Homo sapiens: one gene and its partners. The protein of the gene in region 6 purifies or fractionates together with the protein of the main gene of each other region. This does not show direct contact. Each region holds a gene or a part of one and is shown on either strand. Other genes may lie near its edges. The genes, in order: ZNG1A, FLG, SERPINA12, RGL3, MAPKAP1, GALNT9 and PRIM1.

Evidence for each region.
Region 1: the proteins of GALNT9 (region 6) and ZNG1A purify together in Homo sapiens (affinity purification with mass spectrometry; one large-scale study listed by BioGRID and IntAct). This does not show direct contact.
Region 2: the proteins of GALNT9 (region 6) and FLG purify together in Homo sapiens (affinity purification with mass spectrometry; one large-scale study listed by BioGRID and IntAct). This does not show direct contact.
Region 3: the proteins of GALNT9 (region 6) and SERPINA12 purify together in Homo sapiens (affinity purification with mass spectrometry; one large-scale study listed by BioGRID and IntAct). This does not show direct contact.
Region 4: the proteins of GALNT9 (region 6) and RGL3 purify together in Homo sapiens (affinity purification with mass spectrometry; one large-scale study listed by BioGRID and IntAct). This does not show direct contact.
Region 5: the proteins of GALNT9 (region 6) and MAPKAP1 purify together in Homo sapiens (co-immunoprecipitation; one large-scale study listed by IntAct). This does not show direct contact.
Region 7: the proteins of GALNT9 (region 6) and PRIM1 purify together in Homo sapiens (affinity purification with mass spectrometry; one large-scale study listed by BioGRID and IntAct). This does not show direct contact.

What each region holds. Positions count from the first base shown.
Region 1 is NC_000009.12:169,057-172,556, forward strand, and holds part of ZNG1A (zinc-regulated GTPase metalloprotein activator 1A), read right to left. Parts: exon of another isoform or gene 3,433-3,500; intron 3,117-3,432; coding exon 3,025-3,116; intron 1-3,024. UniProt on the Homo sapiens protein: Zinc chaperone that directly transfers zinc cofactor to target metalloproteins, thereby activating them.
Region 2 is NC_000001.11:152,308,240-152,311,739, forward strand, and holds part of FLG (filaggrin), read right to left. Parts: coding exon 1-3,500.
Region 3 is NC_000014.9:94,499,470-94,502,969, reverse strand, and holds part of SERPINA12 (serpin A12 precursor), read left to right. Parts: intron 1-3,500. UniProt on the Homo sapiens protein: Adipokine that modulates insulin action by specifically inhibiting its target protease KLK7 in white adipose tissues.
Region 4 is NC_000019.10:11,398,815-11,402,314, forward strand, and holds part of RGL3 (ral guanine nucleotide dissociation stimulator-like 3), read right to left. Parts: intron 3,434-3,500; coding exon 3,401-3,433; intron 3,319-3,400; coding exon 3,197-3,318; intron 1,484-3,196; coding exon 1,388-1,483; intron 1,295-1,387; coding exon 1,226-1,294; intron 1,156-1,225; coding exon of another isoform or gene 1,138-1,155; coding exon 1,041-1,137; intron 1-1,040.
Region 5 is NC_000009.12:125,672,709-125,676,208, forward strand, and holds part of MAPKAP1 (target of rapamycin complex 2 subunit MAPKAP1), read right to left. Parts: intron 2,590-3,500; exon of another isoform or gene 2,446-2,589; intron 1-2,445. UniProt on the Homo sapiens protein: Component of the mechanistic target of rapamycin complex 2 (mTORC2), which transduces signals from growth factors to pathways involved in proliferation, cytoskeletal organization, lipogenesis and anabolic output.
Region 6 is NC_000012.12:132,195,872-132,198,230, forward strand, and holds the end of GALNT9 (polypeptide N-acetylgalactosaminyltransferase 9), read right to left. Parts: intron 2,089-2,359; coding exon 1,921-2,088; intron 1,383-1,920; coding exon 1,236-1,382; 3' UTR 501-1,235; downstream 1-500. UniProt on the Homo sapiens protein: Catalyzes the initial reaction in O-linked oligosaccharide biosynthesis, the transfer of an N-acetyl-D-galactosamine residue to a serine or threonine residue on the protein receptor. Does not glycosylate apomucin or SDC3.
Region 7 is NC_000012.12:56,745,824-56,749,323, forward strand, and holds part of PRIM1 (DNA primase small subunit), read right to left. Parts: intron 1,210-3,500; coding exon 1,103-1,209; intron 1,032-1,102; coding exon 958-1,031; intron 359-957; coding exon 222-358; intron 1-221. UniProt on the Homo sapiens protein: Catalytic subunit of the DNA primase complex and component of the DNA polymerase alpha complex (also known as the alpha DNA polymerase-primase complex - primosome/replisome) which play an essential role in the initiation of DNA synthesis.

The DNA of each region.
Region 1 (3,500 bases), on a different chromosome or scaffold from region 6:
TAGCTACCATAGACAGTGATTCCTCTGATGGATCTGGGCAAAGTAAATTGAAAACCTTCTGGAAAGGATTCATCATTCTAGATGCCATTAAGAACATTTGTGATTCATGGGAGATCAAAGTATCAACATGAATAGGAGTTTGAAAGATGATTCCAGCCCTCACAGATGACTTTGAGGGATTCCAGACTTCAATGGAGGAAATAACTGCCGATGTGGTGGAAACAGTAAGAGAACTAGAATTAGAAGGGGAGTCTGAAGATGTGACTCAATTCCTGCAATCTCATAAGAAAACTTTAACTAATGAGAAGTTGTTTCTTATGGACGGGAAAAGAACGTGGTTTCTTGAGATGGAATCTACTCCTGGTGAAGATGCTATGAACACTGTCAAAATGACAACAAAGGATTTAAAATATGACAGAAGCTTAATTGATAAAGCAGGGTTTGAGAGGACTGACTCCAATTTTGAAAGAAGTCATACTGTGGGTAAAATGCTATCAAATAGCATCATGTGCTATAGAGACATCTTTTATGAAAGGGAGAGTCAACTAATGCAGCAAACTTCATTATTATCTTATGAAATTGCGATAGCCACCCCAACCTTCAGTAACTACTACCCTGATTGGTCAGCACCCATCAACATCGTGGCAAGACCCTCTACCAGCAAAAAGACTATGACTTGCTGAAAGCTGAGATGATTGTTAGCATTTTTTAGCAATAAATATTTTTAATTAAGGTATGTATGTTTTTTAGACAATTCTATTACACATTTTATAGACTACAGTATAGTATAAACACAGCTTTTTTTTTTTTTTTTTTTTTTTTTTAAGAAATGGGGTCTCATGCTGTCATCCAGGCTGGAGTGCAGTGGTGCAATCATGACTCACTGCAGCCTCAAACTCCTGAGCTCAAGTGATCCTCCCAAGTAGCTGGGACTACAGGCCTGTGACATCACACCCGGCCAAAACGCATAACTTTTATATGCAATGGGAAACAAAAAAATGTGTGTGACTCACTCTATTGTGATATTCAGTTTACTGCAGTGATATGGAACTAAGCCCACAATATCCCTGCGGTATGGCTGTACAGTATAAGAATCACCTGAAGGGCTTATTAAAAACAGCTTGCTTGACCCCCTCCCTTAGAGATTCCGATTCAGTAGATCTGGGTTGGTCAAGAATTTGCCTTTCTAACAAGCTCCCAGCTGAGGCTGAGGCTGCCATTCAACATACTACCAAGTAGCACTGGCATAGAGAGATCCCTGGAATAAAATGTACCTACTTGTGTGTGTGTGTGTATGAATGTGTGTGTGTGTGTGTGTGTGCGCATGTGCATGTGCGTGTGTGTGTGTGTGTACAGTCTTGCTCTGTTGCCTGGGCTGGAGTGCAGTGGCGTGATCTCGGCTCACCGCAACCTCCGCCTCCCAGCTTTCAAGCGATTCTCCTGCCTTAGCCTCCTGAGTAGCTGGGATTATGGGGTGCGCCACATCGCCTGGCTAGTTTTTGAATTTTCAGTAGAGACTGGATTTCACCATGTTGGCTAGGCTGGTCTTGAACTCCTGGCCTCAAGGGATCCACCTGCCTCAGCCTCCCAAAGTGCTGGGATTACAGGCATGAGCCACCATGCCCAGCCCCTACTTGTATATCACAAAAGTGAGATGATTACTTTTCAACTTTCTTCTTTGTATTTTTTAGGTATTTAAATTTTTTTACAATGAATGTTCCATCTTTACCCAAACAATAAAATCTTTATTGTAAAGAAAGTTAGAAGCAAGAAACATTAACATTTTTTATAACTACAATTTGTATAAAAGCTTTCTCTGTGATCTTTAGTTTTTCTTTCTTCCTCTGAAAAGCTGAATCGTGTTTAATTAAACTCTCAAAAGTATCAAGTTTTTGTCTATAAAATGGCAAAACTGGCTATGATGAAATAAACTGATATTTGCTATTTCTAATAAAAGCATACAATATATTTTTCTTTCTTACCAGATTCAAATATTTAACACCAACATATTAGTCCAAGTCCTATCATCAGTCAGATTTATCAGAAAGGTATGAAAACCCATGCCTACTATAAGGACCAAAATAGCCTAATTCAATACTACTTTGAAAACATGGGGATGATGTTATTATGTAATTGTTTTAAGTACAATAACCACTGATCACATTTGAACTCTCAGGATACTTCAATATTTCTTTTGGACAACTATGACCTGTTGAGTAAATTACCCCCAAATACTTTAATATAGTTTTACAAATCGCCCCAATGCCAGAGACCCAGATCAAAAAAAAAAATAATGGTATGGGTCAGATTCACAGAATAAGCACTAACTTTTATGCAAAATGAAAATAAAGATTTTATCTAAAAGTTATTTGGGGAAAATAAGCAGACTTTATCAAGAATTAGAGCTTGGTAAGAAGGTAACAGAAACCCATTGTTAGAAACAGGTTGACTCTGTGTAGCTTTCCATAGTAGAGTTCAGAGTTTCCTGTCATGATTCCCTTATCAATGCAGTGTAATAACTACTTACACAGCACTTACATTGTATTAGGTATTATAAGTAATCTACAGATGATTTAAAGTATATGGGAGGATGTGCATAGCTTATAGGCAAATACTACACCATTTTATGTAAGGGACTTGAACATTAATAGATTTTGGTATCCTCAGAGATTCCGGAACTAATACCCCATGGATGCCAAGGGACAACTGTACTTAGAGGTAGAACGTCTCTGCTCTTCCTACATGTCCTTATTTTTAACAACTTCTGTTCTTACAAATAATCCTAAGTCAATCAATAAAACTTCAAATTCTATTAACAGCTTAAAAGTACCAAGAAATACTCTGTTCATTCATTCAACTGCCAAAGAAAATGACAACCGAGTACTTTTCCTCTTTTAAACCAAAAAAAGTTTTTGGTTTAATACTAACAAAAGCTTTAATCCTCATTTTAGATATTCCTCTAATACATCTATTTACAATATATCACAGAACTATATTCTGGTTATTAATAATCTCACTTCTTACCAGGGTCTGCTAATCCAGTGGTCTCTAACAGTATGTAATCAAATTTCCCCTTCTTTTGCATCAAATTCTCAATAGCTCTAAGGCCACTGTCCCTGGAGAATACCAAAACATAATTTACAGTTAATTACCTAAATATTTTGAAGTGATTATTATAAACACTTTAAAATATATTCAACAACCCGAGACAAAAGTACCCTTGGGAATGTGAAAATTTAACTCACTTCTAACCTTCTAACAAAATGTCCGTCCCATATTTACCAGTGAGAAAACAATAGATGCATATATATAATAGGTAAAAAGAAATCATATACATAATACTTTATCAAAATTAAAAGCAGAGGAAACTTTATCTGACCAAGTATCTTTTTATAGCTTTATGAAATTTTTAAAAACCAACATACAAAATAATGATAAAATGTATTAACTATAGTAGTTTAATATAATAGCTAAAGAGACACTGATATTAAACACCATAT
Region 2 (3,500 bases), on a different chromosome or scaffold from region 6:
AAGAGGAAGCTTCATGATGATGCGACCCTGAGTGCCTAGAGCCATCTCCTGATTGTTCCTTGTCATATGTTTTTCTGCTTGCACTTCTGGATCCTGACTGCCCACGGGAGGCATCAGACCTTCCCTGGGATGTGGTGTGGCTGTGATGAGACCCTGAGTGTCCAGACCTATCTACCGATTGCTCTTGGTGGGACCCCTGTCTTCCTCCTCTGCTTGGCCCCGGGTGTCCACGAATGGTGTCCTGACCCTCTTGGGATGCTGAGTGCCTGGAGCTGTCTTGTGCCTGATCATAATGGGATCCTTGTCTTCCTCCAGTGCTGGGCGCAGACTGTCCATGGGTGGACTCAGACTGTTCATGAGTGCTCACCTGGTAGAGGAAAGACCCTGAACGTCCAGAGCTTTCCCCTGACTGGCCACGTGCGGACTCTTTGTGGCTCTGCTGATGGGGCCCAGCTTTTCCCTGTGCTGACACTGACTGTGTGTCTGAGTCTTCTGAATGTCCCTCACTGTCACTGGCCTGACTACCACTGTACCCTCGGTGTCCACTGTCTCTGACTGCAGATGAAGCTTGTCCATGCCCAATGCCTGAGTGTCTGGAGCTGTCTGCTGACTGGAGCTGGTGGTGGGATCCATGTCTTTCTCCTGCACTTGATCTTGCCTGTTCATGGGATGACGCAGCCTGTCCACGAGAGGAAGACTCTGTGTGACGAGTGCCTGATTGTCTGGAGCTGTCTGCAGAGTGCCCGTGACCGGCTCTGTCTTCGTGATGGGACCCAGGGTGTCTGGAGCCATCTCTTGACTGCTCCCAAGCAGATCCAAGATGGTTTCTGGAAGCAGACCCAGACCACCTCTCAGAGTCTTCTGAGTGTCCCTGACTGTCACTGTCCTGGCTAACACTGGATCCCTGGTTCCTGCTTGTCCTGGGCCCTGATGATTGTCCCTGGCCCACCTGCGAGTGTCTAGAGCTGTCGGCCCGAGAGGAAGCTTCATGGTGACGCGACCCTGAGTGCCTGGAGCCGTCTCCTGATTGTTTCTCATTACGTGTTTGTCTGCTGACACTTCTGGATCCTGACTGCCCACGGGAGACATCAGACCTTTCCTGGGACGTGGTGTGGCTGTGATGAGACCCTGAGTGTCCAGAACTATCTACCGATTGCTCATAGTGGGATCCCTGCCTTCCTCCTCTGCTTGACCCTGGGTGTCCACGAATGGTGTCCTGACCCTCTTGGGACGCTGAGTGCCTGGAGCTGTCTCGTGCCTGCTCGTGGCGGGATCTTTGTCTTCCTCCAGTGCTGGGCCCTGTGCGTCCATGGGCGGACTCAGACTGTTCATGAGTGCTCACCTGGTAGAGGAAAGACCCTGAACGTCCAGACCTTTCCCCTGACTGGCCACGTGTGGACTCTTGGTGGCTCTGCTGATGGGGCCCAGCCTGTCCGTGGGCTGACACTGACTGTGTGTCTGACTCTTCTGAGTGTCCCTCGCTGTCACTGGCCTGGCTACCACTGGACCCTCGGTTTCCACTGTCTCCGACTACAGATGAATCTTGTCTGCGCCCAGTGCCTGAGTCTGTGGAGCTGTCTGCTGACTGCTGGTGGCGGGATCCATGTCTTTCTCCTGGACTTGACCTTGCCTGTTCCTGGGATGATGCAGCCTGTCCACCAGAGGAAGTCTCTGCATGACGAGTGCCTGATTGTCTGGAGCTCTCTGCAGAGTGCCCATGACTGGCTCTATCTTCTTGATGGGACCTGGGGTTCCTGGAGCCATGTCTTGACTGCTCCCGAGCAGATCCATAATGGTTTCTGGAAGCCGACTCAGACCGCCTCTCAGAGTCTTCTGAGTGTCCCTCACTGTCCCTGTCCTGACTAACACTGGATCCCTGGCGCCTGCTTGTCTTGGACCCCGCTGATTCTCCCTGGCCCACCTGTGAGTGTCTAGAGCTGCCGGCCCGAGTGGAAGGTTCATGGTGACGTGACCCTGAGTGCCTGGAGCCGTCTCCTGATTGTTCCTCATTTCTTGTTTGCCTGCTTGCACTTCTGGGTCCTGACTGCCCATGGGAGGCATCAGACCTTCCCTGGGGTGTGGTGTGGCTGTGATGGTACCCTGAGTGTCCAGACCTATCTACTGATTGCTCGTGGTAGGATCCCTGCCTTCCTCCTCTGCTTGACCCCGGGTGTCCACGAATGGTGTCCTGACCGTCTTGGGATGCTGAGTGCCTAGAGCTGTTTCGTGCCTGCTCATGGCGGGATCCTTGTCTTCCTCCAGTGCTGGGTGCAGTCTGTCCGTGTGTGGACTCAGACTGTTCATGAGAGCTCACCTGGTAGAGGAAAGACCTTGAACGTCCAGAGCTTTCCCCTGACTGGCCACGTGCGGACTCTTTGTGGCTCTGCTGATGGGGCCCAGCTTGTCCGTGGGCTGACACTGACTGTGTGTCTGAGTCTTCTGAATGTCCCTCACTGTTAGTGACCTGACTACCACTGGACCCTCGGTGTCCACTGTCTCTGACTGCAGATGAAGCTTGTCTGTGCCCAATGCCTGAGTGTCTGGAGCTGTCTGCTGACTGCTGGTGGCGGGATCCATGTCTTTCTCCTGGACTTGATCTTGCCTGTTCATGGGATGACACAGCCTGTCCATGAGAGGAAGACTCTGTGTGATGAGTGCCTGATTGTCTGGAGCTGTCTGCAGAGTGCCCGTGACTGGCTCTGTCTTCTTGATGGAACCCAGGGTGTCTGGAGCCATCTCTTGACTGCTCCCGAGAAGATCCATGATGGTTTCTGGAAGCAGACCCAGACAACCTCTCGGAGTCGTCTGAGTGTCTCTCACTGTCACTGTCCTGGCTAACACTGGATCCCTGGTGCCTGCTTGTCCTGGACCCCGATGATTGTTCCTGTCCCACCTGTGAGTGTCTAGAGCTGTCAGCCCAAGAGGCAGCTTCATGGTGACGTGACCCTGAGTGCCTGGAGCCGTCTCCTGATTGTTTGTCCTTACGAGTTTGTCTGCTTGCACTTCTGGATCCTGACTGCCCATGGGAGGCATCAGACCTTCCCTGGGATGTGGTGTGGCTGTGATGGGACCCTGAGTGTCCAGATCTATCTACCGATTGCTCATGGTGGGATCCCTGCCTTCCTCCTCTCCTTGACCCCGGGTGTGCACGAATGGTGTCCTGACCCTCTTGGGACGCTGAGTGCCTGGAGCTGTCTCGTGCCTGCTCGTGGTGGGATCCTTGTCTTCGTCCAGTGCTGGTCCTGGTCCGCCCATGGGCAGACTCAGACTGTTCATGAGTGCTCACCTGGTAGATGAAAGACCCTGAACGTCCAGACCTTCCCCCTGACCAGTCACGTGCGGACTCTTGGTGGCTCTGCTGATGGGGCCCATCCTGTCCATGGCCTGACACTGACTGTGTGTCTGACTCCTCTGAATGTCCCTCACTATCACTGGCCTGACTACCACTGGACCCCCAGTGTCCACTGTCTCTGACTGCAGATGAAGCTTGTCTGCGCGGA
Region 3 (3,500 bases), on a different chromosome or scaffold from region 6:
CCCAAGTGCTGCACATTCCAAGAGGCGCTCAGAAAAGGTTCTGAGGAAAGGTGGCATCTCAGAGGGCCTGGGGTTCCTGGGGCAGGAAGGGGTTTCTGGGGCAGGAAGGGGTGTCTGGTGCATGCAGCCAAGTGTAGGAAGCATCTCCCCGATGAGGAGGCAACACACTGGTTGCCTGAAGCTCGCTCTGTTGGTTCTCAAGACATGGGAACTTGTCCAAAGCATTCTAAACTTTTTGGTCTCATTGGCTTGAGGAAGGATATTACATCAACTCTTTCTAGCCAGTCAGTTTCATCCCAGGGAAGAGAGGTAGGGTGGTCAACTATCAGGAGAGGAGTGACCTGCCTGGGGGCAGGGGGAGTTCTCTCTAAAGAAAACTGTGGTTCCAAACCACTGTGCACTGAGTAGACCTTCTGTAGCCTGTGTGTGTTATCCCTGTTTAGGTATCATTTCTTCAAACTGTGGTGATAACGGGGGAAGCGCTTTGTAAAATTAGAAATATTATTATTGTTGAGTCTGCTGTCACAGCTCACTGTTGCTTCAGTTGGCTGATCGGGACGGTGTGGGAGGTGGAAGCAGTGCCCTCCCACAGGGAAACCCCTTCTCGTGTAGACTTAAGCCGCCTATGCTACCTGTGCGGACGCTTCCCATCTGGTTTGGATCTGTCTTTAGGATGAATGACTTCCGGGTCAGTGAGGCACTATTTTATCTAGTCATAAGAGGAGGAAATTATTTTTCCAAATTAATAGGGAACATGGGAGCAGGATGATCAGAGAATTGAAATACTGACTATAGCTTCATGTGTCCCATGTGTACCCCATGGGGTTCGGTTTCTATCTTGTTCTTTTTTTTTTCTTGGTTTTGTTTTAGTTTTATCTCTTTATTTATTTTGAGTCACAGCCAAACACACACAGATACACACACACACACACACACACACACACATTCCAAACTAAAAGCCAACAAACAATTGCTCAACTCAGGAGAGCAACCTATCAATTGATTGGGAAATAACCAGTTGCTCAGCTATTTTAATTGATGGAATTAAAAAATTAGCCTACTCAGGCATCTAACCCAACTGACAAATTTGGGTCAGTTTAAAGCCCGTGATGACAGATGGAAAGGCCCGGAATGGGGCTGGTGTTGGCTGTTTGGGGGAGAAAGGCCAGATGTTCGCACTCAGGGAGCCAGGGCAGGAGGCCCGGTGGAGACTGCTGTGACACAGGCATGCTGAGGTGGGAGGGTGCTGAGACCCCACCAGGCCAGGGTGTGGGCTGTGTCCCTTGGGGCGGGGGTGGGGGGGCGGGGAGGTGGTGGCAGTGCCACCTGATCAGCAGTATCTCATGGGGGAAGAAACCAAATTATCACCACCTCCCCCTCATTTAATAGATGAAGATACTGAAAGCCTGAAGGGTGAAGAGACTTGCATCAAAACACCTAACAAACACACAAGTTGGGGAGGACCGCTATCCAGACCTGGAATTCCATAATCCGTTCTTGTTTCTGAAACTTGACAATGTTTAGGGATCAGTGACTGAACATCACTGTAAAGCTGTGCGTGCCACAGAGTGTTCCCAGGATGGTGCTTTCTGTGGGTTCCTTCCCTGCTCCAGCCCTGCCCTGCCCGGCCTCCTCCAAGGCTCCTGCCAGGCTGCTGGTTTCACCGCTGCTGAGAATGTTTTCTCAGCTCAAGGGACATGTCTTAACTTCTCCACTCCTAGGCACTGGGAACTTGCGCCCACTCTGAATAGCAGAAGCTTCTATTTTTAATCCAGGCAGCCTTTGTAAACAGTGCAGCCCCCTAAACCCTGAAATGGACTCCTTCCTATTTTCTTTTGTTTATCTGAAGCATTCTTGGGAATTTTACTAATTTCTCTTCTACAATCTGTTTTCAGCAGCCCATAGAGCCCTTGTTCATCACCAGCTGTTATTAAGTTTTACCAAGAAGTGGTTTTTGGGGGTAGAAGGTGCTTAGAGAGCACCCAGGTTCAGAGAGGGAAGTGCTTTCTGGAATGTCACACAGCTACGAAGGCATGAGAGCAGAGCACAGAACTCCTGCCTACTTAGTAGTCCTGGCGTTTTAAAAAATATGTATCTGCCCGTATTTGTGAGGATGTTTTTGGCTTCAAGGAAGTGACCATGTAACTCAACGTCACTGGGGGTCCAGAGGCAAGGTGGGCTCTGGGTTCAGCTTTTTCCATGGACCCAGCCCCGGTTTCTCTTAAGAGCCCTTGGATGCATCCTCTTTGTGCTATGGCTTTGTCTTAGAGTCACTTCCCTCACGGGGCAAAGTTGCTGTTAGTCCCTGCCTGCCGTGCCTTCCTGCCCAGGACATCCCAGGAAAGAGACAGGCCAGCACCCCAACATTCCAACAAACAGTCTTGAAATCCTCCCTCATTGCACCCCTTAAGCCACATGCCCCTCCCTAAACAAGGATCAGGGCAGAAATTCCCGCCTGCACTGATTGGATTAGGTCTGGCTCCTGAACCAACCAGTAGCAGGAGAGTTGAGATGCCCCTGCACCAATCAGGCCCTCCCTTGGAGCTGGGAGGGGCTTGTGTCCCTGAGGCACATGGGCTGCCTGAGAGAAGAGTATATTATTGAAAAGAAGAAAAAGAAAGAGAAGATGAGGAGAAGAGGATAAGAGGAGAAGAAGGCGAGGAGGGGAAGAGGAGAAGAAAGAAGAAGAGGATCTATTGGGAAGCTGGGAGAATGGATGCTGAAGGAGCAATGAGCAGTATTCACTAGAATTTTCCAATACTATACTACAAACTCCTTGAAGACCTTTGTTGTGATCAAGGCTCTATCCACAGTGCTTGGCGTAGAAGGATTTGGACATGAAGAACCTGGGAACTGGGGACACTCCTAGGTACAGGCCCTGCCTGGTGTTCATTCATCTGCTTATTCAGCCAACCAGAAAGAGCCAGGCATGGGAGTTTAGCTGTGCAGACCCCGTTGGTGGCTGACCCAGTTCCCTTTTGCTGGTGCTGCTGTGAGGGTTGCCTGCTGACAGCTCACAACTGCCCTCCCCTCTCCAGAAAATTGTCCTTGGCTGATAAGACCTAACTGACCCAGTTATGCACCATGACCTGCATCCAGAGGACAGATCACAGCCACCAACTGACCGATTCTATCCAAAAGGCCAGCCTGGAGAGCCCTCCCACTGTGGACCAGGCCAAGGCTAGATGTCACCTTGGCTCCTTCCCTTTTCCATCCCACTTCCCTCACTTCCCTACAGGGAAGACAACTGCCTCAATACATAACATGCACCTAAATCCCCATCTCAGGTTCTGCTTCTAGGGAACCCAATCTAAGACAACCATGAAAAACCTTTACTGTGGACAGGCTGACTATTACCCACAGATTACAGACATGTAAGATATAAATTACAGGAAGAAAGCAGACTAAATGATATAACAGATGACCAAGCAAAGAAATCTGCCTTCGTTTTACATATAAATGGGTGTGACCATCACTGACAGTAGTATGTCCAACCAGAG
Region 4 (3,500 bases), on a different chromosome or scaffold from region 6:
TGTGCGCGACCATACCCAGCTAATTTTTCTATTTTCAGTAGAGACAGGGTTTCACCACGTTGGCCAGGATGGTCTCGATCTCTTGACCTCGTGATCCGCCCACCTCGGCCTCCCAGAGTGCTGGGATTACAGGCGTGAGCCACCGTGCCCAGTCTCTTTTTCTTCATAAACAGGATCTCGCTCTATCATGCAGGCTAGAGTGCCGTGGCATGATCGTAGCTCACTGCAGCCTCAAACTCAAGCGATCCTTCCACCTCAGCCTGCTGAGTAGCTGGGACTACACCCAGCTAATTTTTTTGACTTTTAATAGAAATAGGGTCTCACTATGTTGCCCAGGCTGGTCTTGAACTCCCGGCCTCAAGCAATCCTCCCACTTTGGCTTCCCAAAGTGCCGGGATCACAGGCAATAGCCACCGTGTCTGCCATGGTATGCAGATTCTTAGGGACATACATGTCCTCAAAAAAGTGTAGGCTGGGTGCGGTGGCTCACACCTGTAATCCCAGCACTTTGGGAGGCCGAGGTGAGTGCATTGTTTGAGCTCAGGAGTTCGAAACCCACCTGGGCAACATGGCGAAACCTCATCTCTACTAAATAAAAAAAATAGCAGGGCATGGTGGTGCACACCTGTGGTCCTAGCTACTTGGGAGGCTGAGGTGGAAGGATTGCTTGAGCCTGGGGGAGGGGTGGAAGTTGCGGTGAGCTGAGATTGCACCGCTGCACTTCAGCCTGGGTGACAGAGCAAGAAGACCCTGTTTCAAATAAAAAGGGGTGTGATGTGATTGCACCCTAGATGACCCATGGGCAAGCAGTTACACAGGTCCAAATCTGAGCACGAGTCGGATTTATGAGTGATCACCCAAACAGGGCCGTGCAGATGCATGCAATCCCCTGGATGGATACCCCGGGCGCTCAGTGTGCCTCCTGTATACACTCCTGGCCCCACAATCCTGTGTGTACACATGTGCATGCACACACACGTGCACACACACAGAGCCTGGGTGCCCGCAGGCCCGCATGCACACACAAGCCGTCTTGGTACCTTGGTGCTGGGGCCCTGGGGCCCTGGAGAGGCCGGGGGACTGCCAGCAGGAGCATCTCTGCTTCTAGGACTTGAGGGGGGTGACCCTGGGGACACACTGGGGGAGATGCAGAGGCTGAGGTGGGGTGGCTGTGCTGACTCCTGATCCCATGATCCCCAGTCCCATCACCAAGCAGAATGCTCACCTGGAGGTGGGGGATGAGGGGTCCCCGGGACTCCCACTAGGTGATGAGCTTTTCTCTCGGGCAAGCTTCCTAAGGATGGGGACAGGGGATGAGGCTAAGGCAGGAGCAGCCCTTGCTGATATCTGCCCACATCACCGCCCCTACACACACCCCGAGACTCACGCACTGAGACGCTTGGTGAGGCTGATCCGCCGTCGGATGCGTGGGGAGCTGGGGCAGGAGGCAGCTGGTGGCTCAATGACCCGGGAGAGCCGGTAGCTGAGGGGTCAATATGTGGATGAGGTGGTGGGGGCAGGAAATACAGGGGATGGAGAGATAAGAGTTGGAATCAGTTGGGAGGTGGGTTTGGGGTGTAAGGGGGAGCAGCCAGAGGTGGCACCCCACATGCCAGGGTCAGGGTGGTAAATGAGGGTCATTGAGCATCAAGGTCTTATCAGAGATGGGACAGGATGGCTGGTCAGGAGGTCACAAAGAGATTCACAGGGTGGCACTAAGGAATCAAATTGGGTCAGGATTAAAGTCAGGGTCAGGACTGGGTGCAGTGGCTCACGCCTGTAATCCTAGCACTTTGGGAGGCTGAGGCGAGAGGATTGCTTCGGGTCAAGAGTTCGAAACCAGCCTGGCCAATATAGTGAAACCCCGTCTCTACTAAAAATACAAAAAAAATTAGCCAGGTGTGGTAGCTCGCGCCTGTAATTGCGGCTACCGGGGAGGCTGAGGCAGTAGAATTGCTTGAACCTGGGAGGCGGGGGCTACAGTGAGCCGAGATCACTCCACTGCACTCCAGCCTGGGAAACAGAGCCAGACTCTGTCTCAAAAATAAATAAATAAATAAATAAATAAATAAATAAATAAATAAATAAAATAAAGTCAGGGTCAGACTGGGGTCAGGTCACCATTGGGGTCAATGGTTAGGGTCACAGTTATATAGAAAGAAAGGACACAGTTGTCATAGTCAAGCTGGACAGTCAAACATAAAAGTTGGAGTCAGTTACTCAGAACTGAGGGTCAAGGGTTGGGGTCAGAGAGTCAGATGAGGGGTCATGAATAAGGTCATGGGTCAGATAGGACCAAAGATGGGGAAGTCAACAGATGGGACAGTTGAGTTGAATGGCCAGCTGAATGCTAAAGTTGAGGTCAGAAAATCAGATGGGGTTGAAATTGAGGTCAGAGGTCAATTGTGACTATTTTTTTTTTTTTTTTTTTGAGACAGGGTCTCACTCTGTCACCTAGACTGGAACTGCAGTGGCGTGATTTTGGCTCACTCCAACCTCTGCCTCCCAGGCTCCAGCAATCCTCCCACCTCAGCCTCCCAAGTAGTTGGGACCAACGGCACTCAACACCACATTCAGCTAATTTTTTTTTTTTTTTTTTGAGACGGAGTCTCGCTCTGTTGCCCAGGCTGGAGTGCAGTGGCACCATCTCGGCTCCCTGCAAGCTCTGCCTCCCGGGTTCACGCCATTCTCCTGCCTCAGCCTCCCAAGTAGCTGGGACTACAGGCGCCTGCCACTACACCTGGCTAATTTTTTTTTTGTATTTTTAGTAGAGACGGGGTTTCACTCTGTTAGCCAGGCTGGTCTCAAACTCCTTACCTCATGTGATTCACCCGCCTCGGCCTCCCAAAGTGCTGGGATTACAGGTGTGAGCCACCGTGCCCAGCCACGTTCAGCTAATTTTTGTATTTTTTTGTAGATATGGGGTTTCGCCATGTTGCCCAGGCTGGTCTCGAAATCCTGGGCTCAAGTGATCCACCCACCTTGGCCTCCCAAGTGCTGGGATTACACGAGTAAACCACCAGGCCCAGTCTATTTGATTCGACTGGAGATACTGCAAGGTCACAGGTTGTAGTGGGGGATCAGGGCTCAAGAGGGGGTCTTGGGAGGAGCTGGAGGTGTGTATGGAGTGGGTGGAATCCAGTTGGTGACCCAGGCTCAGCTGGGGTGGGGCTGGGACAGGCTACAGGGTGGTCACCTCTGCTCCTCGGTGAGCTGGTTCTGGGCATGCAGGGCAGCCAGGATGGGCGGGTGGGGGCTCAGGGTGTAGCTCTGACAGCGCCTCTGCAGCTGCTGGATGCGGGCCAGGATCTCCCACTCCTGGAGGACGAGCCTCTAAGACCCTACCCCTGCCCCACCCCCACCCTCAGGCACCACCACACCCACTGTAGCCTCCACTCACCTTCCTCCTCTTCTCAAAGTTAATGAGATCCCCCTGGGGGCAAAGTGTGTCTGAATTGCAGCACCCAGGGTCAAGGGTCAAGGGTCAAGGTCAGGGGCTG
Region 5 (3,500 bases), on a different chromosome or scaffold from region 6:
GACACATTCAGTGTAGTAAAATGCCACCTTGAAAATCAACATTTATCCCTGTTCTGTGGAGCTTAAAAGGATTTAGTCTAAGCTGAAAGGAAATCCTTATAAGCACTAGGGGCTGCAGCTCTAGTCAATGAGATCTCTATAGAATCAGAAAGGAAGGCTTGCACTCTTGCAAAACAAATCACAGCAACTCCTTACAAGTCAGGCCACTCGAAGCACATAACTACTGTTAAAACAATATATTTTCCTTTCTTTCTCCCTTCACTATCATGCAATCTTCTCATTACTTTATAAGGTCATGGGGGAACAAGTTGTATTTTCCTCAAATGATGTGCTAAAGTACAAAACTCTATTTCATCAGTTTACATTTCCCCTCCTGTCATATGATTGTGAAGTGTTTAAAAGGGCACAGACAATGCTTTCAGAGTTACTAGGGGTTTTATAAAAATGATGTACCACCAAATTAATGTTGCTCAATGAATATATTTTCCTGTCAAGATAGTATTGTGTTTTTGTTGTTGTTGTTGTTGTGTTTTTTCTGAGACAGGGTATCGCGCTTGTTGCCCAGGCTGGAGTGCAGTGGCGTGATCTTGGCTCACTGCAACCTCCACCTCCCAGGTTCAAGATTCTCCGGCCTCAGCCTCCCGCGTAGCTGGGATTACAGGGATGCGCCACCATGCCCAGCTAATTTTGTATTTTTAGTAGAAATGGGGTTTCTCCATGTTGGTCAGGCTGGTCTCAAACTCCCGACCTCAGTTGATCCGCCCGCCTTGGCCTCCCAAAGTGCTGTGATTACAGGCGTGAGCCACCATGCCTGGCCTGTGTTTTTAAAATAAAATTTATAATCAAAATTACCTACTATACAATCAACTTCTTATTTTAGAAACTTAATTATAAAAACTGCTTCCTCAGTCCTGTTAAAACTGTAATGAGGCCGGGCACAGTGATTCACACCTGTACTCTCAACCCTTTGGGGGGCCGAGGCAGGAGGACTGCTTGAGTCCAGGAGTTCAAGACCAACATGGGCAACACAATCAAAACTCTATCTCTACAAAAATATATATATATAATAATTATTATTTTTTAATTAGCTGAGCATGGTGGGACATGCCTGTAGTCATAGCTACTCATGAGGCTGAAGTGGGGGGATCACTTGAGCCCCAGCATTCAAGGCTGCAGTGAGCTATGATTGCACCATTGCACTCCAGCCTGGGTGACATAGTGAGACCCTGTCTTCTAAAAACAAAACAAAACAAAACATACAAAAAACACTGTAATAATATTTGTTCTAGTAACAAGATAGCACCCTCTCAGTTAAGTGAAAATACTCAACAAAGAAAATATTGCAGGACAACGGTTAGGTACTAGGCCCTAGAGACAGAAAGGGTTCAAACCCTGGCCCTATTACTCGTTAGCTATAAGATCTCAGTCAAAATACTTTACCTTTTTGAGCCTCCCTTTTTTTTTTCCTTCATTTATAAAATGGAAGCTTCAGGAGATAATGCAGGTAAAATGCTCAAAAAAATACATGGCATGTAATTAAATAAATGTTAGCTATTAATAATAATGATAAAAAATCAATAATTTCAATGATCAATTCTTGCTTAAAGTAGTCCTAAAATATGTCAATATCCCATCTGTCTTAGTAAGTTCGTGGCACATAAAATAAGTCTGTGCTTCCTTTGTGATAGAGGACACTGCAAGTCATCTGAGTGACTTCCCTGCCCCTGCAAAATTGTTGAGAAGTACAAGGAATATGAAAGCTGGATTGACTATGTTTCCAGGAACAGTCCTAGAAGATACTTACTTTCAGAAGGACTTATAACACCAGATTTTCTTGTAATCTGTTTCTTCTAGAAATGGAACATAGAGAGGAAATCTAGCTAATAAATCCTTACAGTTAACTAAGGTTTTAAAAATTGTTGTCTGGAAACACATCATTCTGCTGATGTGTCTTAAAGTGGGTCTTAAAATAAAGATACTGAGATTAAAAAGAAATTTAACTGAGGAGCATCTCTAATCAAGCAAATTACATTAATCTTCACTTTTTTCCTCTTAATATATTCCTTGAGTACTTATTTTACTCTGAGGCTAATGGGAAATGCAAAGGTGAGTAAGGTATCCCTGAATCAAAAAGTTAATACCCTAATACAGACCGAGTACATCTCCTAATACCATGGGATTCCTTTAAGCATCAAATTTCTGAGATATCTGGTCCCTGAAGTATTAGTGTCAATCTACCATTTTAAGGATATTGATCAGAAAAAAATATGAAATTAACAATGAGCATTTAAATTTCACTTGTAAAAATACAAACTTCTCTATAACCATAAAAAATGTATACACCACACATTTATTTATAAATGAGAGTATTTGTGGAAGCATAGTATCACAGATCAGAGCTGCAAACATCCTTCTACAGCAATCACAATAAGCCATCTTCCTGGCATGAAAGGAAGGCAGCTAGTCACCAGTAGAGAGGCAGGTGCTTTCAAATTCATACTGAATAGTTCTCCCTTGCAAAAACAAGGGCTTTAATGAGAAGTCACACATTTAATACACTTGATCTTAGCCAAAAGGCCGAGAAGTGATCAGATATTTAATAGGTGTTCTAGCACCAAAAAGTCAAATGGCAAAAGGCAAAGTGACAAAAGTATACTGAAGTGCCCTCAATAAAATCTATTCTAGGGAAATAGATCACTTCTGAAGATAAGAGGAATGGGCAAACACTTCTGAAGGCACATACCAACTTCCCAGCTTTATCCTCCCAGAACAAATGCCTCAACAGCAGCAGATATCTTCTCTATTAGGACACTATGACTTCATACATTAAGGAATCTGTATGATTCATTCAAAAAATATTTATTCCCTACCAGCTCTGATATGGAACTCCCACAGGACTGCCCCAGAAAACATATTATTGTGTATGTCACTTTTTACCTCCAATTACATGTACTTAAAGACTTAGACTATAAGTTCCACAAGGACAGGGTTCATAACACCATATTCCTTCTGGCAACAAAGGCTGTTATACATGGCAGGAGTTCAATAAATGTTGCTGTCTAACTTCCAAGGACTATTCAATTTTGTTGTAGAGATAAGTCATATATGAATGTGCCAGGTGTAAGTGTGTGATTATAAATAAAGGATTGTCTTTTTTTCGTAATACAAGAGCATCTCTTCAACGTGCCCTTCAAAATTGTCCCCTTGGAACACTATTCAACTTATTCTAACAAGACTACTTTTCAAAACCCAAAAGAATATTTTAAAAAATCTCCCAAAGAGCAGCAAATTATCATTTGAAGCTATGTTTGATTTCCAAGACAAGGACATACATATCACGGATAAAAACAAATTGTACTCTCTGATCAGTTGTGCACAGATCAAAAAGATTTTTAAAAATCTAACTCTGGCAAGGGTTCAGAGAAATGGGCACTCTCATGCACAATATGAAGGAATGAAAACTGGGACTTTTTAGACGGTAATTTGGTAATATTTACCAA
Region 6 (2,359 bases):
GTTTGTTATGTGGGTATATAGCTTGATGCTGAGGTTTTGGCTTCTAACGATCCCATCACCCAGGGAGTGAACGCAGCTCCCAACAGGTGGTTTTCCAGCCCTCGTCCTCGTCCTCCTCCCCCTCCCACCTGCCCCTCTGGAGTCCCTGGCGTCTGCTATTCCCTCTCTGCGTCATGTGCATGCAGCATTCAGCTCCCATGGATAAGTGAGAACACGTGGTTTTGGTTTTCTGTTCGGGTTGAGTTCTCAGGCTGACGGCCTCCAGCTGCATGTGTGGCTGCAGGGGACGTGCTCTCCTCCATTTTCCCGGCTGCATCGAGTTCATGGTCTGTCTGCACACGTGAGGCCACCTGCCAGGCCACATCCCAGCACAGGCGTCATCCAGTGATTTCCTCATCGGCCAGAGTCTGCGTCTGCAGCTTTGTGAGCCACGCGGCCATGGCCTGACTCTGTGCCGAGAGCCCCGCAGCGGTGGCCACAGACAATAGTAAGCAACTGGGTGTGGCTGGGCGCCAATAAAACTGTATTTATTAAAACAGGCAAGGGGCTGGGCTGCGGCAGGGCCCAGGTGCCTGGGAAAGAGGTGGGACCGGGCCCCAACCCCCAGCTCGGCTCCCAGGAAGACACACACAGTGCTGCTGCCTAATCCTCTCTTTATTTGGTCTCTGCTGAAGCAGTCGTGCCAGCCTCCTAGACACGGCCTCAGGTTTGTCGCTGTCCATGTCCTCCAGCACCCCTCTTACCAGACCACAAGGAGCTGCATTATGATGTGTGACTTAGGTCTTGGTTGGAGGGCTGAGCGGCCGCAAGTGCTGGGGGAGGCTGCTTGGAGCATGGGAGGCCTGCGGGTGGAAGACACCAGGGTGCAGCCTGGTGCATGGTCCGGGGCTTGGCCTCCCTATGGGGCGTGGGGGGCTGTGGTACATGCAGAGGCGGCGGCTGTCCCAGCAGCCTGGCCAGGAGATACCGTGGAGAAGGCACGTGTTTGAGTTGGCATCACTGTCCCCAGACGCCCTCCCTCGGGTAGAGCCGCCTGTCCTAGGAGAAGCTGTACTCCAGATGCAGTGGGTGACACCCTGGTCACTCAGCCACACCCCGGCCCCTCAGCCTCTGCTGTCCTGGCCGCACATAGAGCCCTGTCCTGCTGTGTCTGCCGGGCACACCCCGGTCACTCAGCCACACTGGCTCGGCCCAGCGCCTTCCCGAGGTCTGTGGGGGTCCGGGCGGAGGTGGGGTCAGTGCCGTGCGTGTTTGATCCAGTTTCTGATCATCCACTTCTGCCCCGAGCACCTCTGTACCACCAGCCGGAGCCCAAAGTTGGCATCTTTGGACATCTCCACCTCCAGGCAGCGGCCCGTGGCCCGGCTCACAATGGGGCCACTCTGTGGGGACAGGCACATCAAGTCAGCCAGGTGCAGGCGTCCTTGTTCCCCCTCCCCCCACCTCAGGGAGGCTGCTTCGTGCTCTCAGCCCTCGTGCTCATTCTTGGGGCAGCTTGAATGGAAAGCCAGCATCACAGCAGCACCCAGGGGGGCCGGGAAGGGGCTGACTTCAGTGGAGCTTCGAGGATTTCCCATCTTTCCTGCAGGGCTAGCGGCCCAGGTTGGAATCATACCTCATCCCCTTCCTAAATCCTCCCTCTACCCTGGGCACCTGAGGCTGGAAGAGGCAGATGCAGGGCTATGATCAGACTGTCCAGCCCGACCCCTCTCTGGCTGTGTGACCCTGACCAGTCACCTGCCCTCTCTGTGAGCGTCGGGGCCCATAAGGGAACAGCTGATCCAAGGCCCGGTCCCCTGACCACCCCCTGCCGCACTCCAGCTCCCACCCAATGGGCTGGCTCTAGTGGCAGAGGCACCCAGGGGTCCCAGCAGCCCTGCCCCGCCCCAACCCCACGGCCCCCCTTCCCCAGAGGCTGACCTGGGTGAAGTCCCACAGCCGCTGTGTTGGCCGCGCCACATCCTCACACTTCTTCAGGGTGGGCATGCGGCCCGTGCCGTCATCCACCAGACACTTGGAGTCAGGCAAGAAGGCTGTGGAGCCCAGAGGCCCCAGCTGCAGCAGTCCATCAGCGCTGTACCGCACCAGCTGGGGACAGGACCACCGGGACTGTGTGTGAGCAGCGCCCAGGCTCTCCCCAGTGAGCACTGACAGGCCGTGCGAGCTGCCTTGAGCTGCAAACGGGGCCCTGCGCGGCTGCCTTGGAGCCTCCCACCCCGGGGACGCTGTTGCGGGCGGGAGAGGACCGCCGGGCAGGGCCCACGTGGGGATGCGGGCTGGACGGCGCCCAAATGCTCCGCAGGGCCAGGCTCCCGGCTTGCACAGCTGGCTGGTCTTCCGCCTGGACAGACGTCATGAA
Region 7 (3,500 bases), about 75 Mb from region 6:
AGCTACTCGGGAGGCTGAGGCAGGAGAATTGCTTGGACCCAGGAAGCAGAGCTTGCAGTGAGCCAAGATCATGCCATTGCAGTCCAGCCTGGGCAACAGAGTGAGAGTCCATCTCAAAAAAAAAAAAAAAAGATAGTTTCATTTTCTTTGACAGTAAACATATCAGGCTTGGTAACATCTAGAAACTAAAGCAATGCAAATTAGAATTAAGAGGATCTTACCTTTACAAGGCTCAAATACTCAACTATCCCAGAACGTACTGCAGAAGACAGTTTTCTAACTGATTCATCACAGACCCAACAATGAACACCTCTCCTTCCAGAATATACCCAGAGACGATGCTTAAATCCAAAGTCCTCTGAGGAAGAGAGAAATAATAGGTTTTAAAACAAATCTATAAACTCCTTAATTAATGTATATTAAATTACTTGTTGTTTCCTGTGCTCCCCATGTTCTTGCTTCATCTCTTTACCCATCCTGGTCTCTCTGCTGGGAATTTCTTTCTTTTTTAAAAAACTATTTTATTAGGCCAGGTGTGGTAGCTCACGCCTGTAATCCCAGCACTCTGGGAGGCCGAGGTGGGCAGATCACGAGGTCAGGAGTTCGAGACCAGCCTGACCAACATGGTGAAACGCTGCCTCTACTAAAAATACAAAAATTAACTGGGCGTGGTGGCGTGCGCCTGTAGTCCCAGCTACTCAGGAGGCTGAGGCAGGAGAATCACTTGAACCCAGGAGGCAGAGGTTGCAGTGAGCCGACATTGTACCACTGCACTCCAGCCTGGCTGACAGAGTGAGACTCGTCACACACACACACACACACACACACACACACACACACACACACACACACAAATTAATGAGATTTGATCACAAAATACAGAGACTAATAGTTAATAGTAGTCAGAGGAAAACCGATTCTTACACTTGACCCCATTCAGAAACTGCTGATACTTGCCCTTCAATGCTCTGTCAATGATGCGTATGGCCATTGTCATGAGGGTCCAGCACTTAGGACATATGTCTGCAGAACTAAAGCAGAGTCATCATTACTCATTGTCAGTGATACCACCCACCCTAACAGCAAGACACACAGTGCTCACCTACAACATCTCCTCACATCGTCATAGTCTGTCATGTCAATGTCAAATACCAGTTCTTTTTCCTGAGCCTGGAAAGCTCCCAGCTTCACTGTATTGTGTTGATTGGGCTACAGATACAAAATATTGATCAGTTTCTATAAGAGCTGCCACACTGCTAAATCTGCTTATTTTCTACACATATGGAAAAAGTTGCCAAACAGAAATAAAGAGACTATATAATGCCAACTTTATGACAGTGAAAGTTCATTATTTTGGATCTTACACATACACTATTGATGAGAGTCTTAACTTTCACCAACTTAAAGCAGGGTTTAATGAATACATATCCATCATAAATGTTTGTTGGTCAATAAGGATAATAATAAAGCTGTTTTTAGTTTTCTGACAAGGGAACGTATACAAATAATGGCCTATTGCAAGGTGTTTTAAGAACCTTTACTTGTTACCATACATAGAAGTATTTAAAAATTTTTCAATAATTCAAAAAGATCTCCCCAATTAGTTTGAATTGAGACTTTATTATAAAGAGGCTATGAGAAGCTGGGCACAGTGGCTCATGCCTGTAATCCCAGCACTTTGAGAGGCTGAGGCGGGCAGATCACTTGAGGTCAGGAGTTTGAAACCAGCCTGGCCAATATGGTGAAACTGTCTCCCTACTAAAGATACAAAAAATAGCCGGGTGTGATGGCATATGCCTGTAGTCCCAGCTACTTGGGAAGCTGAAGCAGGAGTATCATTGAACCCGGGAGGTGGAAGTTGCTGTGAGTCAAGATCACGCCACTGCACTCCAGCCTGGGTGACAGAGCGAGACTCTGTCTCAAAAAAAAGAACCTGAGAGGTTAATTCCACCATAAGTTTTTATAACTGTAAGTCAGAAGGGAGTGATTACTGAGGAGATTCATAAAACTAAATCTTAGGCTGTCAGTAAGGAAAGATAAGAGGCGCAACCCAATTTATACCTCAGAACCCCCAAAAGGCTCAGGGATAGGTGATACCAGGTATTGTTGGAATGAGTAAGTGCGTGTTTAGTGAAGCTGAGATGAAAAACAGGAAGATTTTTCAAGGCCACCCTTGACTGAAGGAAAAAAAAAAGGAGGATTGGTTCAAAGCATAGTTAAGAAGCAGTTAGCTACCCAGATTCGTACACTTAGCTTGCAGAGCTAGGTGACTGCTCTTTCATTTCCCTGGCAGAAGACACCTGAATTATTTTCCAGAGAGCATAAAACAGAAGGTCCCTGGACTTGGACAACAAGTACAATTGAAGAGTGTGTTGTATTGATATTACAAATTGATATTAGGGGAATAATTAGACATTTATATGTGGAATGTTAAGACCCAGCCCTTTCCACCCACTTCTGTACTCTTCCACTACCAACTCAGGCAGGAAGCTAGAAGATTTCTCTCTAAATAATCTGAACAGGGCTGGGCGCAGTGGCTCACGACTGTAATCTCAGCACTTTGGGAGGCTGAGGCGGGCAGATCACGAGGTCAGGAGATCGAGACCAACCTGGCTAACATGGTGAAACCCCGTCTCTACTAAAAATACAAAAAATTAGCCAGGCGTGGTGGCACACACCTGTAATCCCAGCTACTCGGGAGGGTGAGGCAGGAGAATCGCTTGAACCCGGGAGGCGGAGGCTGCAGTGAGCCGAGATCATGCCACTGCACTCCAGCCTGGATGACAGAGCGAGACTCTGTCTCAAAAAAAAAAAAAAAAGCTTTAGCTAAAAGAAAGTGGTTGCTTCTGGGTCTGGGTGTGGTAGCTCATGCTTGTAATCCCAGCATTTTGGGAGGCCAAGGCGGGTGGATCACTTGAGGTCAGGAGTTCGTGACCAGCCTGGCCAACATGGCAAAACCCCGTCTCTACTAAAAAACACAAAAATTAGACAAGTGTGGTGGTATGCGCCTATAATCCCAGCTACCCGGGAAGCTGAGGTGGGAGAATCACTTGAAACCGGGAGGCAGAAATTGCAGTGAGCTGAGACTAGCCACTGCACTCCAGCCTGGGCAAGAGAGCTAGACTTGTCTCAACAAAAGAAAGAAAGAAAGTAGTTGCTTCTGGGTAGCAAAAAATGAGGGGGAAGGGTAGCAGAATTTTTTTTAGACAGGGTCTCACTCTGTCGCCCAGGCTGGAGTGCAGTGGCGTGATCTTGACCCACTGCAACCTCCACCTACCGGGTTCAAGCAATTCTCCTGCCTCAGCCTCCTGAGTAGCTGGGACTGTAGGCATGTGCCACCGTGCCCGGCTGTTTTTGTATTTTTTGGTAGAGACAGAGTTTTACCATGTTGGCCAGGCTGGTCTTGAACTCCTGACCTCAAGTTATCTGCTCGCCTCAGCCTCTCAAAGTGCTAGAGTTACAGGTGTGAACCACCGGCCCAGCCTGGTAGCAGATTTTTT